2 linked regions of the Homo sapiens genome follow. The protein of the gene in region 2 purifies or fractionates together with the protein of the main gene of each other region. This does not show direct contact. Each region holds a gene or a part of one and is shown on either strand. Other genes may lie near its edges. The genes, in order: TRUB1 and SLC2A2.

What was found.
Region 1: the proteins of SLC2A2 (region 2) and TRUB1 purify together in Homo sapiens (affinity purification with mass spectrometry; 2 studies listed by BioGRID and IntAct, with this or other methods). This does not show direct contact.

What each region holds. Positions count from the first base shown.
Region 1 is NC_000010.11:114,945,894-114,957,929, reverse strand, and holds part of TRUB1 (pseudouridylate synthase TRUB1), read right to left. Parts: intron 6,837-12,036; coding exon 6,781-6,836; intron 1-6,780. UniProt on the Homo sapiens protein: Pseudouridine synthase that catalyzes pseudouridylation of mRNAs and tRNAs. Mediates pseudouridylation of mRNAs with the consensus sequence 5'-GUUCNANNC-3', harboring a stem-loop structure. Constitutes the major pseudouridine synthase acting on mRNAs.
Region 2 is NC_000003.12:171,014,600-171,026,635, forward strand, and holds part of SLC2A2 (solute carrier family 2, facilitated glucose transporter member 2), read right to left. Parts: intron 4,025-12,036; coding exon 3,932-4,024; intron 3,857-3,931; coding exon of another isoform or gene 3,808-3,856; intron 133-3,807; coding exon 1-132.

The sequences.
Region 1 (12,036 bases), on a different chromosome or scaffold from region 2:
CTAGAGTTGACTCATCTGGTTACAGTCAGCTCCCATAAGGAAAGCAAAGCATCAAAATGCTTTATGATTTTTTTGTCTTTAGAGTCTGTTTAGTTGCATAAGAAAACCATGGTGCAATCTTGCAGACTATGCCTTGAATGTATCTGCAGTATTCTGCTCTGCAACGAGTTTGAACTAGGAACCTTAACATGTTTCCCAAGTATGCAATGCCCATTCTAGTCTCTGGACTCTTGGTGTTTTGTGCACCTGGGGCACATATGCCACTTCCCTGGCCTTGAACTCCCACTCTTCTCTAAGGATCAAACCTTATTCAGCTTTCAAAGCCACCCCTTAATCCATCCCAACTTCCATTTACCCACCTCCACAGCATGACTAAGAGTAGGTGCTCGATACAAATTCCATACATAGAAAGAAGGAAGGCATATATCAAATCCACAAATTCGATCATGTTTCTTAAGGACTATGAATGTCCAAAGTATTCTCCTAAGTGCTAGGGAAGGATACACAGATACATAAGATAGATTGCTCTCCCTCTAAGAGGTTACAGTGTAACAGGAAAACTTCAATAAACACAACTACTGCAGAGAGGACTGGATATAATGGCAACAACAGACATGTCTGGTTTATCTCACTGAGCTCTCATATCACACATATCACACATCTTAGCACATGATGACCTACAGAGATATTCACTGTTTTCCAAGTATACTTTATTGATCCTTACTTTCTGCAAGTATGAACTCTCAGCTAGAGTTTCCCATTGCTCATCTATTGTGTTCTTTCCTAAATAGAAACACAGTAGCAGCTTAATAAAAAGTTGCTGACAGAATGATACACATGCTAGAGAAGTGCCTATGTGTGCAATTCTTCACATTTCACCATAGTTTTGAATATCTAGATTTCATCTGCTAAGTCTCAACCCACTCCAGGGTCTGCAATTATATTGTATGTAGCTACGTGCTGGATTCTTTTTAGGGGAGACAATATCTAAATCAACATTCTCAAATCAAATCAAATCAAAATGTTCTCAAACATTTTGCTTTCAGAACTCCTATACACACTTAAAACTTATTGAGAAACCCTGGCACACATTTTTTAAAAACATGTTATATCTGCCTAGATTTATTGTATTAGAAATTAAAGCTGAAAAATGTTTAAAACTTCCATTAGCCATCAGAGCAATGATGTCATTGCACATCTAGTAATCTCTGAAAAACTCTACCATGTATTTGTGGGATTGCAAGTTAAAAAGGCAAAACTATGAAAATAGTTTCAATTTCAACAGACACCCTGAAAGAGTCTCAGGAGTCCTTAGACCACACCCTGCGAACCGATGATTGAAATCAGCTGTCTCCTAGCTTTCCCTTGTCCTGGCATCTAGTTATAATTATCCTTCAATTTTATTCAATTATCCACAAACCATTTAGAAAAATTCACCCACACAGTTAAGCCTTCAGCTGAAACAAAGCCTCACGACCAAAAAGATATTGGGATAGAAGAAAAAAGACATGGAGATACACACATTCAACCCTAACATTTTATCTTATGGAGTCTAAAATATTTCTTTTCACTGGCTTAAATTCTACGTAGAGTCTGTGCTTTGGAGTTGTTAATTCTCCAAGACGTATACCTGGGAACCGTGAATTCTACTACTGTATTCATTACAATGTAATTCTACTGCAACAAAAGAGAGGTCCTGAAGAACATTCCATTGACCTGTGTACTCTCTGGGACTCACAGTTTCTCACTGGTATTATTCTACTCTCTACTTTACTCATCGTCAAGCTCCCTAAACCCCACAGCAGGTATTAGCTAGACATCTCTAGCAGCAAATCAGCTTCTGTTCTGTTTAGGAGAAAGAAAAATGTTTCTACTACAGAAAGTATACACACAATCATTTCCTTGGATCTCAACTGAGGTGTGATTTTGAAAGCTTGTGATTTAAACCTTCACAAACAAAATAGGGATATTACTGAGGATGAGAAAGAACACTTTTTAAAAAACCTATCAAACCAAAAACATGTGGCTTTGAATGTCTTCATTAAGAAGGAACAGTCCTTTTTTATAGTTCATAAGTATAAGCCCTTTAAAATTTTCAATACAGTATTTATGAAATATATGAAAATTAATAGCGTATATAGAAAAGGTACAAACTGGACTAGCCTCTGGAGAAAACTGATTAGAAATGCTGAAATCTTCAAGAGTTGGCTAAGTTTCATAGGAGCATTACTCAAGCCACACTTTAGAGTTCTCATAACTGGTTAACCTAAAAATGTTACTGTGTTCTTGGGGAAAGTTACTATCCTTTGACCACACCAAGAAGGGGAAACTTCATTCACTCCAATGATGACACTTGTTTAACTACTGGAGGGGGATACAAAGTTGCCTTCTGAGGAGATGCTGGCTTTGCCTGCAGGTGCCACTATGGTTTACCTGCACAGAGATATGGAGGTACCTTTATATCTGGACATGCTAGTTAGATTATTCAGGTTTTCATAACCTTTCCATCTGGTTTCTAAAGCATTTATAAAGTAACCAACTTTGATCAACAATATAGAAAACTAATAAAGACAGCACTCCAAAACCTCATCTGTTTTCTTCTGTTCCTTCTGTCTGTTCCTTCAAAGTACGACATCTGCTATCCAGCTTTTGCTGAATGACTGGCTCAAAGAAAGTGTAATTTAGGGAAGATATAAGAGGGGCTATTTGCCCTCCTCTAGGTAAGCAACGTTTTATACTTAGATCAACTTAGGCCAAAGGAACACATCAGCCTAACCTCTCAGAATTTTACCTAAACTGTATTTTATGTAGCTCCATTTCTACATCTGTTGTAAAACTATTTTTGAAAATCACCATCTATCTGTCATTTAATATCTCTTATTGTCAGAAACTTCTTTCTGGCTTTAATGTCCAAGGAAAGTCTGTCTCTCCCTTAAAGAACTGGCATGCTTTCTCTTTCTGATGAGTGCAATATTTTGCCTACATCACCAGCAATCACAGATAGCCATGAAAAAAAAAAAAGAAATTAACTGTATTCAAGAGTTCCAACAGAACTTGCCTGAGTAAAATTAATTTCAGGTGTCTACAGAACATGTGGCTAGAAAGCTCCAACAGGCCTGGACCTCAAGAGAGAGACTTGGGGATAAGTAAAATACTTGGGAATAGTAATAACAGTATTTAATGAGCAATTTCCATACACAAGGCACTGTACAAAAAGTTCACATGCTTTTCACACACATTATACACATAATCCTAAATGATCAGGCACAGGGAAAAAAAAAAAGACTTGAGAAATATGATCACTGGCAGAACAAAGCTCACTCCAAGGCAGGAGAGGAAGACAATGAGGAACACAGAGCAGTGGCTCTTTTCTTAACTTTTACCCTGATCTGAATGGGAGGAAATGCAAGAAATGATTTGGGTGGTCTGATTAGTGTCTAGTCTTCACAGATGGAAGCAAAATAATGTGATGGCCTAAAGATTTTACTTAAAAGCCAGAATTTCATCTAGTAAGTGACAGTAGTTGTATGAAGTGGCACCATGTTGAAGAAGATTCTAAGGGTGTTTCTTGATTCAGCAAGAAGAAATGTTAGGCCATGTTCAATTAGCAATATCTCCAATTACGACTGGCTAGGGAGAGAAGGCTGTTCTGTAATATGGCTGTAACAAGAACACTGAATATTTGCCATCCTAGAACTAAATATTTCTACTCTTGACGTAACTCCATCCTACACATACCAGAAGTCTAATTTTTCTAGTTGCACTGTGATGCAAATAAAAATTCATCTGTCAAAATAGGAAGTGAAGAAAAAGTGGACATTAGATCTGGGCCAAGTTAGGGGGCTGCAGCCACATTTTTTTTTTTAATGAAATAGAAGGAAAAGTATCAAGAATACATCATACATAGGGTTAGAGTTGGATAAAGTTTGGATGTCTGCCCCCTCCAAATCTCATGTTGAAATATAATCCCCAGTGTTGGAGGTGGGGCATGGTGGGAATTGTCTGGGTTATGAGGGCGGATCCTGCATTAATTGCTTGGTGCCCTCCCTGCAATGAGTTCACGCGAGATCTGGCTGTTTAAAAGAGCCTGGCACCTCCGCCTCTCTCTCTGTCACTCCCTCTCTCACCATGCGACATGGCCACAAGTGTAAGCTTCCAGAGGCCCTCACCAGAAGCAGATACCAGTACCTTGTTTCTTGTACAGACTTCAGAACCATGAGCCAAATGAACCTCTTTTCTTTATAAATTACCCAGCCTCGACTACTCCTTTACAGCAACACAAACAGACTAACACAAAGTTGTTTGATAAAATTTTTCCTTTTCATAAATGTATGTATCTATATGGTCATTACATAAAATATGTTTCTTACTATGGGTCTTAGTCAAAAAAATTTTGAAAGTCACTAGATAAGATGATCTCTAAGATTCCTTCTAGTGCTTTTAAAAAAAGAAAAAATATTTATTAACAGTTTTTAACTACTTTTTATTAAAAAATAATCTTCAACATTAAACTCTTAATGATTTAGTTCTTTTAACAGGTACATAAAATTAAAAGGATAAGAAATATAAATAGCTAACAAGACAACGATGCCTATTTTTGAAATACCTAAGAACTAGGTTTCTGTAACAAGACGTGCCTGTGGTATTCTATTTATGTTACAGTCATTTTGAGGATCAGTGATTTCACTGTATGACATTCAGCTTTCGTAGCTGAACAGCAAATTGGCTGTTACAAAATTTATACCAGAGTCAATGATGTATTTACATTTTCAGTCATAATATTTCTGAAAATATGCCTGAAATTTACAAGTAAAATCTTTCAGTAATATATAGTGTGCTGTGTTTGTGGTTTGGGGGAGGAGGGGTGAACAACGAATATCTCAATGAACTCAACATATTTTATCTTGGTAAAAAAACCCAAACAAATTCCTTAACGTAAATATATCTTTTTTATTATTAACATAAAAGTGACTTGTTTATTGTATAGATTTTAGAAAATACCAAATAATGTGAAAAAAAAATCATCCATAATCCCATATTAAAGTAAACATTGTTCATCTTTGGGAGTTCAGAAACAAATATTAAACAACTGGCAAAAACCAGTATCAGAAACAGATTCTAAACTCTATGTGTCAGTAAGCACAGTATAAAAATTTACTGAGAAACTGTCAAACACCTTCATTCTAATGCAATTTTTATACTCTGTAATTTTTCAACACCAATATTTTGAAGATTACAGAGCAAGCCACACTGAAGCTTTTCATTTATCAGAGGCACTAAGATTCCTTCCAATTGAATGGCACAGATTTTTATGCCAGTTGATAACCAAAATGAGACATCACATGCAATATGTTCTCCGAGGCTTTTTAAAATCAATCGATCAATCAATCAATCAATCTATGTATCTATGTATCTATCTACCTACCTACCTACCTACCTATCTACCTATCTACCTACCTACCTACCTACCTTACTTATTATTTATTGAGATGGAGTCATCTCACTCTGTCACCCACGCTGGCGTGCAATGGCGTGATCTTGGCTCACTGCAACCTCCGCCTCCTGGGTTCAAGTGATTCTCCTGCCTCAGTCTACCGAGTAGCTGGTATTAAAGGTGTATAGCACCACGCCTGGATACTTTTTTTGGTATTTTTAACAGAGATGGGTTTCACCATGTTGGCCAGGCTGGTCTCGAAATCCTGACCTCAAGTGATCTGCCCGCCTCGGCCTTCCAAAGTATTAGGATTACAGGCATGAGACACCACGCTCGGTCAGGGCTTTTATTTTAATACTTAAACCACTACTACGTCAAGTGTTTTCCACAGGCCAGTTATCTATAATAAGTTCAGAAAATGAGATTGCGTAGAAACTTATTTAGCAATTTTACATTGCCGTATTTTAATTATATTTTACAAAAGTCATCAATCAGTCTGCAATGAACTGGAAATTGTTTTTTAAATGGTCTTTGACAACAGATTTTTTTAAAGAAACAAAAATCATTTTATCAACAATTTATATCACATTTAGAGCAAGAGTTTTAAAACAAAGTTTATTCCAGGAACATAATGAAATTTTTCGCTACCTCTTGGCATACTAAGCTTCCTTCCACGTGCATTTTCATTGACCCTTAGTCCCAGCACTTATAACCAGCACCTAATTACTCATTAGGATACAGATATTACTCTCTCTTTGAGAGATGGAAGAGACCCCTTCTACCAGCAGTTCACAGCTTTCCAGCCTCTCCTGCCTCCAAATAACCCCTTCTCTCTTCTATCAAGTGCCTGGAAAAGTGCTTTTGGATCTATTCAAGGTTACTCTCATATATGAACATACTTTATCATCTTAAAGAGGCCCTACTCTTTTCTTTAATAAACATTTATAACCATTGAACAAAGCATATTTTTGCTCAAAGGGCACAGTTTACAAAATGGTATTGTTTCTATAAAAATTCCAAGGTTTAAAAAAGTCTGTCACTAGAGTTTATGACCTCTAAGTCCCAATCATCTAAGAAATATGATGTTTTAAAAGTCTAAATATAATTTTGTTAAATGATGAGCACTGTAGCATTGTTTCTTTAAGTCTAATTGGTTTTTCAATTAAGAATTTCCAATTTTCAGTCTCGATATTTTCAATCTCAGATATGTTTATAGACATAATTAATACTCAGGAATGATACCCATTCATGCAGTTTACTCAGTTTATTTTTTATTTGATAAAAACCCAATACATGTAGATCATTAAGAACATTAAAGAAAAATAGAACTATTTCAGTATTCTTACCTTGGACCCTGACAACATACTGGTCAACATTTTTGTTCCGCTTCCAATTCCAACAACTACAAATCAAAGAAAGAAATATTATGACACTCTGTTCTGAAAACTAGGTTTTTAAAATAGCTATATTTTTTGGTCATAATTTCCCAGCTTAGGTAATGTGAAGTGGGAAAGAACAGATATTTAGCAAAATGTTAGGGCTCCTATTACTCCAAACAGTTGAACTTGTCATGCAACTAAGAAATTCTAAAGAAGGGACAAGAGAAGACCTTTCTCCCCATTCTCAAAGTATTAAACTCAGTAGAAACCTTAACCCAGCCAATTAGACAATGAAGCCTTAGAACAATCTCAAAGGACGCACTGGAATTTTATATGGGCACCAGTGAAAAACACACGGCACAATTAACCATGTTCAAGTGGGTATGATAAAGTCTTTTGACAGAATTCATTATTAAACAAAGCAAAAGCCATTATCACAGCTAATGAACCATTTAAAGATGATTAGCACCCAGCAGTATATACAATCAAGAAAAGAGAAACATAACAAATCAGTCTAACACAAAGAATACAAGGTAAAATGAAGGCTGAAGAATGTATTTACAGAGCCCAAAGTACAACAATGGCCTACCTTTCTCTTAAATTTCAAACATTATTCATACGTCAACACATTTCACTTGGTGAGGGTGAGAGGATTTAGTCACTTCTCTTTTTGTTAAGAAGCCACATTTTTGTAAGTATAGAAATATTTGTCATCAACAGATATAACTGTGCATAAGAACACAATACAATCACCACAATTCAGAATTATAAGAGTAAACAAGGACTACTGATTGGCAAACTAGAAAAAATATCTCCAATATTTACAGCAAATACCATTCAGTGAGTTTACCATGTATCAGATTCTACTCTAAATGCTCTCCTTTCATTATCCCATTTAATCCTTATAACAACTTTAAAAGGCCAGGTGTGTTGGCTCACGCCTGTAATCCCAGCATTTTGGGAGGTTGAGGCGGGCGGATCACCTGAGGTCACGAGTTCAAGACCCACCTGACCAACATGGAGAAACCCCGTCTCTACTAAAAATACAAAATTAGCCAGGTATGGTGGCGCATGCCTGTAATCCCAGCTACTTGGGAGGCTAAGGCAGGAGAATCGCTTGAACCCAAGAGGCAGAGGTTGCGGTGAGCCAAGATCACACCATTGCACTCCAGCCTGGGTGACAAGAGCAAAACTCTGTCTCAAAAAAAAAAAAAAAAAAACTTTAAAAGATAGTATAATTACCCCTGTTGATAGATGAGGAAACAGGAATAAGAGACTAAGAACTTTGTCCAGCATCTCACAACCAGTACCTGGTAGAGTTAAGATTCAAACCAAATGGTCTAAGAACAGACCCCCCTTCCTTTCCATTCCCTCTGCCACCTTAACTCACCTAGGCTTTCTCCTCACTGCAACCAGCCTACATCCCTGCAAACCTGACGGTTCTACATCCTATCCCTTCCTCTTCCAATTCATACCACTTCATAACCATTTCTGAAACCCTATTTTTCACATTACAAAGCCCCCCAAACAATCCTTAGTAGGGTCCCAGTGCCTACAGCACCAACTCCTTATTAAAGTATTCAAAGTCAATCCTTTGAAGCCCAGCTCAAGCCCCAACTCATTCATAAAGTCTATTCCAACCTCCTCAAAACCTCTATGACACTCATCTGTATTGTCCTTCTAAGTCATATAGTTCAAGGTCTAAGATCAAAAACAGTCTGTCCTCAGTAATCCTCTGAAGAGCATAATACTCTTCAAATGACAGAACTTGTAGATACTGCTGCTGATGAGGCAAACAGGAAAGATTCAATGCGACTTGATTCCATTCAAATAAATCTCCAATCAATTTTTCTTGAACAACTACTATGCACATAATCCCAAGAGGAATACTTCCAATGGAAAAACAAAGAAACCTGTGACACATTTCCTAACTCTGAAACAGCTTATAATCTCATCAGGAAAATAAAATACAGAAAAATCACAGTGCTCAAGAAATGTTGCCTAATGAGTGAATAATGCTAAATAACAATATGATAGTATATGATTAAGTGTCAAATGAACAGAGAGAGAACCGCTGCCAAAGCAGGGCAAAGGTGGGAGCATCCTAAACGGCTAAAGAGGCCGGAGAATGCTTCATTCAAGCATTTCGGAGTTTGTATTAGGCCTTTGAAGGATGTATAGGGAACACAACAGAGAGAAGAGAAGCATGTTCTAAAAAAGAAAATAATTGCACAAACTCTCAGATACAAGGATGAGAACAGTAGGTTTATCAACTGAACACAGGGTGTCTTAGAAGCAGACTGACATGTTTGACTTTAACATGGCTGAAATACTGAACTCATGATGGTTTCTGAGCTAGTTTAGTGACCCAGAAGGATAAAATTTAAAAGAAGCCATCTTAGAGTTACCCAGCTTAATCCTCTCATTTTAACCTAAGAATAACCAAATGCCATTGAAGTGAGGTGATTAGTGAAAGCAGAATTTTAGGAAGACTAATATGGTGGTGGCATATAGAAAAATTATCTGGAGTTGGGACCTAGCCAACCAGCAGCTTTTCATTCACAGGTTAGTTTCCCGGACAGAATTTTTACTCGGCATTTTTTCCCTTCAATCATTCAAAATTGTATCCAGTACTTATTGTGTAGGTACAGAAATAAATAAGACCTGGCTTCAGCTGTGATTTAACAATATAATAGGGAGACAGATATTAACAAAAACTAAAAGAACAAAATGAAATTTTACATTAGCAGTATAGAAGAGCAGCAGGCAGGCTTCAAAGGTAGGAAATGGCATTTCAGCTGAACCTGGAAAGGTCAGTAGGACTTCTACAACCAAAGGTGCTGAGAGAGATGAGCAGCTTATAAAAGAAAAACATGAGCAAAGGCACCACATTTGAAAAGGTGTGGAGAATTTAGAGAGCAGATGAATAACGGGGTTTTCCATGCACTGTTGCACAATTACTACTCTCCTACTCTATCTCCCAAGTGTTCTGTGCTCACTCAAATGTCTTTTCCGTTAAAAAAACAAAAACAAAAATAACTATCTCCAAACTTATCCAATGTCCTAGTATCCCATTCTCAAATCAAAAAGATAGAATTTGTTTATGATGAGAGTCTCTTTAGGACAGGCATGGACTCTATACATGTATTTCCAGCTTTCTGTAGGATCATCTTACAAGACCTGTATCTTTCCAATCGTAGGAATCTATTTTAAGAATCTGAAACATCTGGCTGATACAGATGTGTGGGTAAAAACTAAAAACAAAACAAACAAAAAGTTCTATCTATAAAGACATCTCTCACAAAATCAGTTCTGACAAAACTCTGGTGATAACCTCAGTGACCTCAAATAGGGAAATGGTTAATAAATGGTATTTTAGCCATATGATGGAACATTTTATAGCCATTAAAAATAAAGTTTACAAAGAGCTTATCAACATGAACAATGTTTATGTTACAATGTTAAGTTTAAAAAAATGGATATATAAGTATACACAGTGAAGTAGATCTCAACTTTAAAAATCTGCATAGACAAAAAGCTACAAGGAAATATGGCAAAAATGTTAACTGACTATTGATGAAAGGTGGAAAATGGATAATTTTTTATTTGCAACTTTCTTGTATTTTCTAAATTTTCTCACTGTTTCTATAACCTCTAAAGTTAAAAAAATTTTTTTGAAATGGTATATAGAAATTTTATTTACATTTTAAGTGATTTATGATAAATAGGTGTATTCCTTTCCTATTGCTACTGTTAACAAATTACCAATCTGTCTTAAAACAATACAAACTTTTTATCACATAGTTGGGGAGGTGAGAAGCCTGAAACAGGTTTAACTAGGCTTAAAATCAAAGGGTTGGCTTGACCGTGTTCTTCTCTGGAGGTGCTAGGGGAGAATCCTTCACTAGAGCCTCCGTAGAGGACCTTTTTTTTTTTGCCTCCTCCAGCTTTTAGAGGCTGCCCCCATTCTTTGGCTTGTGATCCCCTTCACTCTTCAAAGCCAGCAACCACATTACTCCAACCTCTGCTTCCACTGCCACATCTCCTCTGACTCTCTCTTCTGCCTCCTCTTCCACTTTTAAAGAATATTGTGATTACATTGGGTCCACTTGGAAATTCCAGGATAATCTATCTTAAAGTCAGCTGATTAGCAACATCAATTCCATCTACAACCCTAATGTTCCTTGTGATGTAACCTAATATATTCACAGGTTATGGAAATTAGGACACAGACACCTTTAGAGGGCCATTATTTTGCCTACCACGTATTTTTGAGAAACTTGTGAACCCTCTAGCAATTATGCTATAGAATTATAAACCTGAATTTCAGGTTATAATCTTAAATTGTCAGCTAAATTCTTAATCTGCACCATTAATATTGCAAAAAAAAATGTTGAAAGTAAAAGTATATTTTTTTTGCATAGGTCCAGTTTTAGTTTTGTTTGTTTGTTTGTTTGTTTCAAAAAAGACCTTTTGGCCGGGCATGGTGGCTCACACCTGTAATCCCAGCACTTTGGGAGGCAGAGGTGGGCAGATCACTTGAGATCAGGAGTCCAACACCACCCTGGTCAACATGATGAAACCCTGACTCTACTAAAAATACAAAAATTAGCAGGGCATGGTGGCAGTCGCCTATAATCCCAGCTAGTCAGGAGGCTGAAGCAGGAGAATCAGTTGAATTTGGGAGGTGGAGGTTGCAGTGAGCTGAGATCACGCCACCGCACTCAAGCCTGGACAACAAGAGCAAGACTCATCTCAAAAAAATAAATAAATAAAAATAAAAAAGACCTGTATACAGCACTTCACAGGATAAAGTATATATCTATATACTATAGGTATTTTGTAAAATATTTTTGAAAACCTTTTGACTTAGTTTTGGTAGACGTTATCTTCTTTTAAGAGATGAAGACACGTTCAGTGAAGTTACGAGATTTTCTTAGGATGTATACAGTTAGTAACTAAAGCAGCCAGTAGCCAGTGTACAAACCGAAGTATGATTAGAGTTCAGTGTTTATTTTATCACACAATCAAAAATCGACTTCTCATAAGTTTCCAGAACTGCTAACTTGGACAACAAACATCCCTTACTCTGTGACTAAACACCTACAATTTTTTAAACTTTCTCTCTCCTCGGAAATCACATGCATTAAAAGAAAAATTAATACATCTGACATATGAACATATTATATCATCATAAAATTCCCTGTGTGATCAAATATAAAT
Region 2 (12,036 bases):
AGGGGTTGGTTTTGGGTTCATTGAGTATGAGATTGTGGGCAGTTCATCTGTACTGTTGATAACATAGTTGTTGATAGCTTTTCGGTCATCCAGTGGAACACCCAAAACATGTCTATAGTGAGATATTATTACCTAGGAGATAAAGAAAAATAGCTTTACTATTTCAAACATTCTATGTATTTTTGTTTTTGTCTTTAAAGTGTTTGTTACGTGTTTAAATAGTACCATCTCAATTATGTGTTTTATATACATATAAACATGGATAGATTTGTTTACAGTTGGCCATATCCTATAAAAGAAAGGTTATAAATTACATTGCCAACAAGAACCAGGCAGGAACAAATAAATGAAGGGAACATGTAATACTTTGATGACTAGGGGACTAAAATACATTTTCTACTATTTGGGACTAATAGGGAATGGTCAGGATTGTGGAACTAGAGGAGCAAGAGGAAGCTGCAAACGTGAAACTGGTGTTGGATGACCTTTAACTTTTTAACAGAAAGTCAGAAATCTGAGTTTTTATGTAAATTTTTTCGAGTTTTAAATATTGGCAACTATTGAAATTGAAACTATTCTGCAGGCTAGGCCAGGCGCGGTGGCTCACACCTATAATCTCAGCACTTTGGGAGGCCGAGGTGGGCGGACTGCTTGAGCTCAGGAGTTTGAGACTAGGCTGGGCAACATGGTGAAACCCTGTCTCTACGAAGAATACTAAAAATTACCCAGGCATGGTGGCACATGCCTGTAGTCCCAGCTACTTGGAGGGGGCTGAAGCGGGAGGATTGCTTGAGCCTGCGAGGTTGAGGCTGCAGTGAGTCAAGATGGAGCCACTGCACTCCAGCCTGGGTGAGAAAGTAAGACCTTGTCTCAAAAAATATATATATTCTGCAGGCTAAAAAGATACATTTTCATGCTAGTGTTACTTCTGCACAGCAGGATTTAAATTGACTTATACATATTTTAACAGAATCATAAAAGTGGATATAAGAAAAAAGACTGGGAAAGTTAAGATGAGGGTCAAAAATCAAGTTAGCATACAGAATTCAAACACTAGATGGTGTATCTTTGTTGGAAGTGAGCTATAGATTTACCAGTAAACTTCCTAGCCACCAGGGCAGAGAGGAAAACAACCGGGTATATTATTGATGAATTCCTAAGATAACAATAAGTTAGTGGCCCTTGAGAAGGTATTGAGACCCAAAGGAAGTTTCTCCTGTGGGTCCTCATAGAGTTAACTGTGTAACAGAATGGACAACATTGGAAACTAAATTTCATGGAGCCATATTTTGTAATATGCTTCATATAATTCAGATGAATTATAGGACATGGGAGGAAGACGAGGCCATCTTCCTCCCATGTCATTCCTCTCAATGATGATTTGGTCACTATTTAGCATCAGTGAGCTGGGAGGGTACTCTCTGAAAAGGACCTGGAATGCAGCTGCTCTGGGTTACTAGTTATGGGCAAAGGCCTGTTTGGTAATGCCAGCTGAGGGAGGGGAAGAATTGAGCATCCTCTTATAAAAGAAGTCTGATCAAGACATTTGTCTCAGACTGGGTGCCGTAGCTCATGCCTGTAATCTAGCACTTTGGGAGGCCAAGGTGGGCAGATCACTTGAGGTCAGGAGTTCAAGACCAGCCTGGCCAACGTGGCAAAACCCTGTCTCTACTAAAGATACAATAAATTAGCCAGGCATTGTGGCTGGAGCCTGTAATCTCAGCTACTTGGGAGGCTGAGGCAAGAGAATTGCTTGAACTCAGGAGGCAGAGGTTGAAGTGAAAATCTCCAGCCTGGATGACAGAGTGAGACTTTGTCTCAAAAAACTAAAACAAAAACATTTGCCTCACTAGAAGGCTGCCTTATATGAATAATATGCATAGAAAAAAAAGCTGAAGGAAATATCCAAAATGTTCTCAGCAAATAATTATGGGTATTTTTTTTTCTAATACTGTCTTCAGTAGGCATGTGTAATTTTCATAACCATATGAAAGTGTGATTTTAAAATCCTTCCAAATAATCCCAAATGTCATTCAGCTGATTAAAAAAAGGCTTAAAAAATCATTCTTATGTAATGGTGTTTCAGCAGCTCTTTAAATACAAAAGGAAGGGCCTATATAGAGAGAGAGCACTAACCTGGACGCCAGTATGGGGATCGCTGTTTTCAGCTCTGGCTCTGGGACTTGGATTGAAGGAGGTGAAACCTTAGCCTAAGCTTCCGTCTAAGACTGGAGGGGATGGTTTAATTTTTTCTTTTTTTTTTTTTTTTTTGAGATGGAGTTTTGCTCTTGTTGCCCAGGCTGAAGTGCAATGTGCGATTGCAGCTCATCGCAACCTCTGCCTCCCGGGTTCAAGTGATTCTCTTGACTCAGCCTCCCGAGTAGCTGGGATTACAGGCATGTGCCACCACGCCCAGCTAATTTTGTATTTTTAGTAGAGACAGGGTTTCTCCATGTTGGTCAGGCTGGTCTCGAACTCCCGACCTCAGGTGATCCGCCAACCTCAGCCTCCCAAAGTGCTGGGATTACAGGAGTGAGCCACTGCGCCCGGCCAGGGATGGTTCAATTAATGATGTGATAAGGTCTTCCACAAAAAGAGAAGGGGCTCTATTAATCAAGTCATGGTGATGTTGAATGTTAAATTGTTAAATGATGTTAAATTCCAGGAAACCTGCTAAATTGGCATGTGTTGTCATCACCCACACAAAAAAGATATGACCCTTGTCTCTTGACCCCCAGCACTATGCCCTGGATCTCTCAGCCTGCCACACTCCTGATGATTGTAGCACCTAATCGGAGCACGTCTTTCAGCAGGAAGCAGCCCTTTTCAGGTGATGGATTATGGTCAGCGCATATTTCACATATCCACACCCTGCAGTATCTTTCATTTTCCTTGGGGCTCAATGTTCTAAAAGAAGCAGAGGAAATATAATGGACTTACAGAAGGCACCGAAAAAATGTTTGTACCTTCACTTTATGCCACCTCTTCCCCAGGTTCCTCTTCTCTGTCTTTCATTAATTCACCCCTCTTTATTGAGTACCTTCTTTATGCCAACTACTGTGCTTGGCACCAGTGATAGGAAGAGGAACAATTCATCAGTCTTGCCCTCAATGACCTCACAGTCTGAGTTAGAGCAGAGGGGAATGAAGTCCTGGTTCCCCGACTTATGGGCTGTGGGAGCTGAGAATAACATACCTCTCCCATGTATTCACTGAATACCAGAATAGGGATGCACGAAATATATGAGAAAAATGGTTGAAATAACTTGATTAAAAATTCACCCAAGGAGTCATCGTGGAGAAAATCCAAACTTTGTTGAGCTTCTTGAATATTATTCTAAAGTTTTACATTATTTTACTTTGGGTCACCTATGGGAGACAGGAATGGAGGGGGAAGGACCATAATCTCTTTTAGTTTAGGGCTTCTTAAGGTTTTAATGTAGACTGGAAATGGGCATAATAAGGTTGTTGAGAGGATCCAGCTGGGGAGATCATATGTTAAAGTACCTGATGCAAATAAGCAGGTGCTCAAAAAATGTCCCCTGAGTGAAACATATCCTTATTCCCTGGCACTTTTCATTCATGTATGGCTGAGATCTCTGAATGAATGTTGCAATAAGCTCTTTTTTTCTTTTTTTTTTCTAAAGTATCCTTCAGCACATGATATTCTGCCTGGAGTTTTCTGTGAGCTCAGCAAACAGCAGAGTCAGAGATTAAGAATTATTTATTGCCTCCTTTTTTTTCCCCCGTGATTGTTAATTAGGGAGTCAAGGCCAAGTTATCAGCTTTGGAACAGTGCACATCGTACCTGACAGGCCAGGATGGCCTTGTGTCTCCCACGTGGACACCCTTTATCTCTGTGTATGAGGAACATATGATATCTATCACTGACAGAACTTGCCAAAAAGAGAACTTCTACATATTTCACTTGCCTGTTGAGGTGCATTGATCACACCAATGTCATATCCAAACTGGAAGGAACCCAGCACAGCAGTGATGACAGTGAAAACCAGGGTCCCAGTGACCTGCAGGGGGCGAGACACAGGGCAGGGAAACACCAGGCAATTTTAGTTTCCCATCTTTCTGTCAGGCTGCAGCTTAAACTTCTTACAGGCTCCACAGGCTGGTTCTTTCCCCTCAATATCGATTTGCAGTATGCCCTGTGCTCCAGGCTGGCAGGTGTTGTTCATACAAGAATGTGAGCCATTCATCATTTCCCCTATGCTGCTAAAACTCAAAGAAGTTTGGGACAGCTTCTTCCAGGGGAGGAAACAAACATTCTTTTCCATATATGTGTATGAGAATAGCATACCTCTCCTGACTATTCACCGGATACCAGAATAGGGATGCATAAAATATATGAGAAAAATGATTGAAATTACTTGATTAAAAAAATCCACCCAAATAGTCCTCATGCAGAAAATCCAAACTTTGTTTTATATATATATATTTGTTGATATGTGTGTGTGTGTGTGTGTATATATATATGTGTGTGTGTGTATATATATATATATATATATATATACGTATGTATATATATATATATATATATATATACGTATGTATATATATTCAGAATCAGGACTGAGAACTAGAATAGCTGCTGACGGAAGGGAGCCGCCAAGATAGAGCCATTATATCATTGGGAGCGGTAAAATAAGATACCAGTAATAAAGAGATGGGGAGCTCTGTTGGATGTTGCCATGGTGACAAAAATACTCATATAAGAGGCATTAGCTAGCCTTTATCATGTTCCGCATCAACATCCAGGGAAGGGTACTTTTCAGGATTTGCATCTAGTTCAGCCTAGAGTTGTAGGATAAGGGCCATTATTTTCTCCCCAACTCCCCAACTCCATGTAGTTACAATGAAACTGTGTAGAAAAGGGGCAGAACATTCATCCCCTTGAACTCATATTTACATGTCTAACTATCTTAGAGAAATCACATCATGCATACGGATACTTAGTTTAGCATTTTTTTGTGCATGTGATAGCAAAATTGTAGAAAGAACCCAAATATCGTTCAATGGGAAATAGTCAAATAGATTCAGATACATCATAATACATACATCAGATACATGTAATATGCTATGCAGCAGTTAAAAGGAATAATATGATCATGTGTACTGACTTATTTTTAAGTGGCGAAGGAAGTTATGTAATCTAATGTTTTTAAAGGCTTAAACATGAGTTTGTTTGATTTAAAAAATCAAACAGTTATTTGATTTGTGCATGACGTATATAATTTATAGAATGTTTTCTTGAAGAACAAATGAGTTGATGGTCCTTGAGGAGGAATGTGAGGTTGGAGAAGGAGAGTGAAGGAAATTTTTTCTTGTATTCATATGATTAGACATTTCATAAGGAAGATATTTCATGTACATTTACATAAATTTTTAAAAAGCTTGGGATATAGTAGGAACTTTGTTGTGTAAATGAATGAGTCACATCAACATGGATTCCAGTTCTCACTCTCTTAGTAGGTATGTGACCCAAGCCACTTCCCTTATAGGAGCAGTTTTTCTCTAAATTGTGGGGTGATAGTAAATCTCCCTACCCTGGTGTAAAGCCCCAGTATAAAGAATAGCAAATTAGCCAGAACCCTTCATTACCCTGAAAAGCTAGAGATCAGAAATTTCACAAAGTATTGTCACAGAACCATCCTGGGAGCCCTTGAAATTATTTAGTCCAGTGGTTCTAAAACCAGACCCTACTTGGAGAGCCTGTTACACATGTAGCTTCTTGGAGACAGCCCCAGATCTTCTACTGGATTAGAATCTCTGGGGTGGGGATAGGGAATCTGTAGGTTTACAAAGCTTCCACCCCTTTCACTAATATAGGGGGTATCTGTCAGACTTTCCCTCCTAACACTTCTTTCTCTGAAAGAAAGGACTTCAAAGTTGACCCAAAAGACATGGTTATATGATACATATATATTGCCCAAAAGAATAATATATATGTGATATATAATATTGCATAATATGTTTATTAGATATAAATTGGCCAGGCATAGTGGCTCACACCTGTAATCCCACCACTTTGAGGGACTGAGGTGGGCAGATGGCTTGAGCCTAAGAGTTCGAGACCAGCCTGGGTAGCATAGCAAGACCTTGTCTCTACAAAAAAATACAAAGATTAGCAGGGCATGGTGGTGTATGCCTGTAGTCCCAGCTACTCAGGAGGCTGAGGTGGGAGGATTGCTTGAGCCCAGGAGGTTGCTGCTGCAGTGAGCTATGATTGCACCACCATACTCCAGCCTGGGTGACAAAGCAAGACCCTGTCTCAAAATATATATATTTATTTTATATATTTATATATCATTTACATCTGATATTTATCACTTATATATATCATTTATATCTTACATATAAGATATATTAACATTTTATGTTTATTACACGTGAATTATATATATTATACATAAAATGCATACACACACTATATGATATATGGTCTATGTGAGTATGAAAGATTTTGAATTTAAAATCTAAAATGTAACTCGACATCTAAAACTCAGTGGCTTAGATAGCCAAATCTAAGATGGAATTTTATTTACTTAGTTGGTGGTTTCTCCTCAAATCCTTTTTCCCCTCAAGCTATTTCCAAGGATAGGGATTTTCATCCTTTTTACAGGTGGTAGCCATTGTCAGAAGTGATGGGATAAGGAGTACCCTGGGAGGGCTTTAACCCACTTCCCTCATACTCTCCATCACTGAAACCAGGACAATCTCATGTGAGATGCAACACAAACAGATTCAAAGCCTAATACTACTTATGCTTACTGCATGCCTGTTCACTATGTGGATTATCTCATTTACTTCTTAAATTAGTTTTCTATTGCTGCCGTAACAAATTACCACCAGTGCAGCAGCTTAAACAACACAAATTTATTTATCTTAAAGTATAGCCAAGCATGGCAGCTCATGCCTATAGTCCCAGCGTTTGGGAGGCTGAGGCTGGAGGATTAATTGAGGCCAAGAGTTCATGACCAGCCTGGGCAGCATAGCGAGATCCCCATCTCTACAACAACATCTATAGATGGGAAGTCTGGTATAAGTATCACTGGACTAAAATCAGGTTGTTGGTAGGCTGTGTTCCTTTCTGGAGGCTGTTGGAGAAAATTTGGGTTGATGATGGAATTCAGTTCCTCTTGGTTATAGGTCTAAAGTCTGTCGTTTTGCCCTGGTTATAAATTAAGGGCCATTCCCAGCTCTAGATGCCACCAAATTTCCTTGGCTACTGGTATCTTTCTTTCCTCTTTATAGCCAGTAATGGGCAGGTCAGGTCCTTCTCATGTTACATCTCTCTGGCACTGACAAGTAGCTGGGAAAGTTCTTCCCTTTTGAGAATTCATAGGATTAGATTTGACCCATCAGGGTAATCCAGGAAAATCTCATCTCTAGGTCTATTACCTTAATCTCATCTGTAAAGTCTTTTGCCACATAAGGCAAGATATTCCCAGGTTCTGGCAATGCAGCTGTGGACTTCTTTGGAGGACGATTATTCTGTCTACCACATTCTTCATGGCAGCACCATTAATGTCCCCATTTTATAGATAACTAGATTAGTTTAACATCTCACAGTTAGTAAATTAAAGAACAATGACTTGGTTCCAGATCTTACGCTTTTAACTTCTTGGTTATTTTGCATCCCTCATTAGTCAGATACAGACATTCAAAAGCGAAGCACATCTGAAAAATCTAGGACCATAATCTTTATAAATTAAAAAAGCTAAGAGCATACATATCCACAGAATTTACCACTTGTGGGTGTTTAGCTGTTTGGCTTCAAACACACAGAAATCTCAACCACATTTTCCCACCACCTACCACACAAATCCCTTTTCCCCCACTTACCAGTAGAAACTTTTGGTGAGGTCTCTGGACAAAAGTCCAAAAAGGCAAAGCCTACTCAATTGCTCATCGGTAGCTGAGCTGAAGAGGAACCTCAGGGTCTTCCCACCACCAAGCCCAAGACCACAATATACTTTCCCAGTCTCATCCCTGCATTTTCTTTTCTTCTGTGGCACTTGGTTTATTAGTGACTGTCACCTCCTGCTTCATCCCTGGATTTCTGTTCTCTGGGGGTTCTCTCCCTGTCCCTCTACCATACAAACATATAATTTATTTCTCCTTATTTTAAGAGTCCAATCAGTAGCCATGCTAATGGTGAGCAGGGGCGACACAGAAATTGAAGTTGGGGTGATAGCGATAGCTGCAGCACATGTACTCCCCTGTCGTCTCCATTAGTTCACCCCTGTCACTTTACATACACAGCCTAAGTCACAAAGTCCCACATTACTTTGACAAAAATGAAAGCTAATTTTTAAAGATGCTGGATCTCCCATCCTATTTCTTTCCAATCAAATTGTTCTATAGTATAGAAATTCTGGAGCTGCCTCTAAGATCAGTTTCTCATTTTATTAGAATAACAAAAATAGCAACTATGAAGGAGATAGGAGAGTTTTTAAACATTTAGAAATCTTAGCGTGTTATTAAAGTCCTTATCCTCTGGCCTTCCTGGTTTCTTTTTGAGGGTTGACTGTGGTCCTGCCACCCCAGGGCCTGCAGTTCCTTATTTTAACTCCTCAAGATAGAATTTTACCAGGTTGGTCAGATAAGGAGCAATCTCATCCATTTTAAGCAGGTCATTTGAATTTCTGAGAATTTCCAACAAAAGTGATTATCCCAAATATCAAAATCTCTGAAACTGTTTAATGGCATTTCCTTTTGCTTTCTTTTTCTTTATCTTTTATTTTCAGGTTTAATTGCCCTCTCTGAACTCCATGTTAAAATGGCTCCCACTCCTTCATCTTTTCTTTCTCCAATGTTGTGAAATGAAAAGAAGTAATGTTTATAGTCAGCCTTGTATGTGGCTTGGCTCTAGACTTGGTCAAAGGAGGTTTTGTTTCTAAGGGGAAATTTCTGAACACGACCAAGTCTTAATAAGCCCCGTCAACCTTCATTCATCCACTCTAATGTCCAAGAAGTTGACACAAGAAGAAGTACATAAGTGCTACTGAAAATAGCAAGAAATTAGAGAGGATCTTAACCTGTCCAAGTTCTGAGGTTCTAGATGGTTTGCCTGTTTTCTCAACAACCCAGTAGGTAGGAATTATTATTATCATTTCACATATGGGGGAGCTCACATGGAAAGAGTAAACAGCTTGTCCAAAGTCCACATAACCTAGTAAGTGCAGAAGATCTTCAAGCCTTTTCTCCTAACTTCCTCATAGGCTATAAGGTGTTCAGCTTGCACTTTAAAAAATGCTACCTTCATTAGGAGCTTAATAACTTTAAGTTAGAGAAACTAGATTTCATATCCAATTTAAAATATGCTGCTGGATAAATGTGGAAGGGTAGAATAAGCAAATGGCTGAACTTCAACATAAAACAATGTAGTGTTTATATTGTGGCTCATAAGTCATATAGGGTCTATTAGAAAAAAACAAATAGATGTGGGAGTCAGAAAAGCTCCAAAAGAGTCCCAGCTAGGCTCCTAACGTCACTGAGCCTAAGTTTCTTTGCCTATAAAATGGGTATAAAACTAGTTAATGCATAGGATTACTGTAAAAACTAAGATAAATAATGTGGTCTTCCTATAAACAGTAAAAGGGCTACAGAACAAATGCATCTTTAATCATGTCTTTATCATCTCATTCATTTCTTTTGTCAAACAGCCATGTGTCAACTTTTCATACTTTACCGATACTCTTTGCAATACCACAAAGTACATGAAATTATTCCTATTTTAGAGGTGAGGAAGCCAGGGATCAGAGAGGATTAAGGAGCATACCTAACACTACACAGCTGGTGACAGATACTCTAGTGTGGGAACCGAGAGCTGATGGTCTTAAACGCCACTGCTAACCTGAAGAGCAGATTTTTCCAGCAATTACTGATTGACTAGGTAGGGAGGAGAAGCTTATACCCTTTTCTTTAAACTACATGTCTCCAAAACCTAAACCAAAGGTGATCTTGCATGCAACTTTGGAAAAAGCCAGGGGCTTATCAAGTCACAGAATTTTTAAGTTGAAAGAGACCTTAGAGAACAATGGATTCTTGTCTAATTCCTCCATTCTTCAGTTGTAGAAACTGAGGTCTCACAGGCCAAGTTGTTTATGTCATTTGTCTGATTTCTGTGAGCATTTTGGGCATATTCAGTGTGACAACTCAGGTCTCTTGACCCCAGTTCCTTGCTTATCCTACTTCTTTCAAAGTCTGGATAGATTCACAAAGCTGAAAAACATTGCACTACCTCAGTTCTCATTCTTTCTGGGTTCCATTGTTAGGCAGTTCCTTGGTTATCAAGAAAAGATCTACAACGTAATTTCAAAAGCCCCTAAGAAAATTAATGATAGTTTTGAATGAATCTTGAACATCTGCGATGTGCCAGACACTATGTTAAGCACATTACCTTCCTTTTTGCAGTAGCTTTCAAACTTTAGTTATTTGATTACTACCTTCATGAATTTTGCCAAATCTACATACCATCTATGTAGTTGTTAACTTAATGTTTGTCTTTATATTGACCTTAAAGTTCTAACTACTTTAGCTTTATCCTGGGCTATAATACTCATGAAATCATGATGTGCTAATTATTCTTTAAATACATACTATATAAATGCTATATAAATAGCATTTTATATTTAACTTTAAATATCAAACATATAAATGGTGCTTATATAATATGTATTTAAAGTGTTTATACATTATAATATAATTTATCTTTTATAATTTATAAATACTATTTAAATATGTATTTAACACTATTAATAATTATATAACTATTAACATTAAAATTGTTGTCTAAGCCTCTCTAATATAATCTCATTTAATTACTCCCTAACTCTAAAGTACTAGTATAATCCCTGAATATCCCATATTATATCACTGAGCCCAAGTTTCTTTGCCTATAAAGGGTATATTGTATCCTAATATGTTTTTGTTTTCTCACAATAGAGAAAACCCAAAGCTCAGTTAAATAACTTAACCCAGGCCTCACAGCAGTTTAGTGGCATTGCTAGAACCCAGATCCAAGTCTGGCTGACTCCAAAGCCAGTGCAGCTAACCATGCCATCTAATGACATGAAGGAATGTTCAGCAGAGTAAGTTGCACCAGATGAGAACTTAAAGGTGAGACCCTACAGGGCACAGATTGATCAACTTATATGATTGTGTGTACAGGGGTGGGTGAGTTTAGAAACCACGTATAAGGGAGCAAGGACACTATATCCTTTATATTTTTAAGTTTTTTTTTAAAGTATCATATCTAGAGAGAAGTTGAAACAGTAGTGAAGTGATCATTCCATAACCTTCGCCTTTATTCACCACTGGTTAACATTCACCAATTTGTTGATCTCTCGCTCTGTAGTGTTTGTGTGTGTGTGTTGTTTTGGCTGAACCATTTACAAATAAGCTGTAGATATTTGTGTCATTTCACCCCTAAATACTTTAGCATGTACAAAGAACAAAGACATCCTCCTACATAATTAGATACCATTATTATATCCAAGAGTGTGAAATTGATACAGTAATATTATTTAAGATGCAGCCCATATTTAAAATTTCCCAACGTCTCCATAGTTCCCTTATTGCTATTTTTTTCTTCCTTCCACAATCTAAATCATTTGTTGCATTTGGTTGTCAGTTTGTCTTAATCCCTTTTAATCTAGAGAACAACCCTTCTACCTCTTTTGTCTCTCCTGCATTGACGTTTTTGAAGATTCCCGATGAGTTTTCATGATTAAATTTAGGTCAATCTGCCCCCTTTTTTTTTTTTTTTTTTTTGGTTAGGAGGGGACATATTTCTTTAGTAATATGGTTATGCACAATTACTTGAAAAAACTTATGCAGACTAGTCAGTTAACAGAGCAAAAATCCTTAAAACCCCAATTACTGAATAAGAAACAGTTCTTCAATTGGCAAAGTAAAGAGAATTAATTTTGATCTGTGGTAGCTACACCCAACCTCCCCCAAATCCTCTGTATGACTTGACTGTATTCCCCTAACTATCTCCTGAAAACCAGACTTGAAA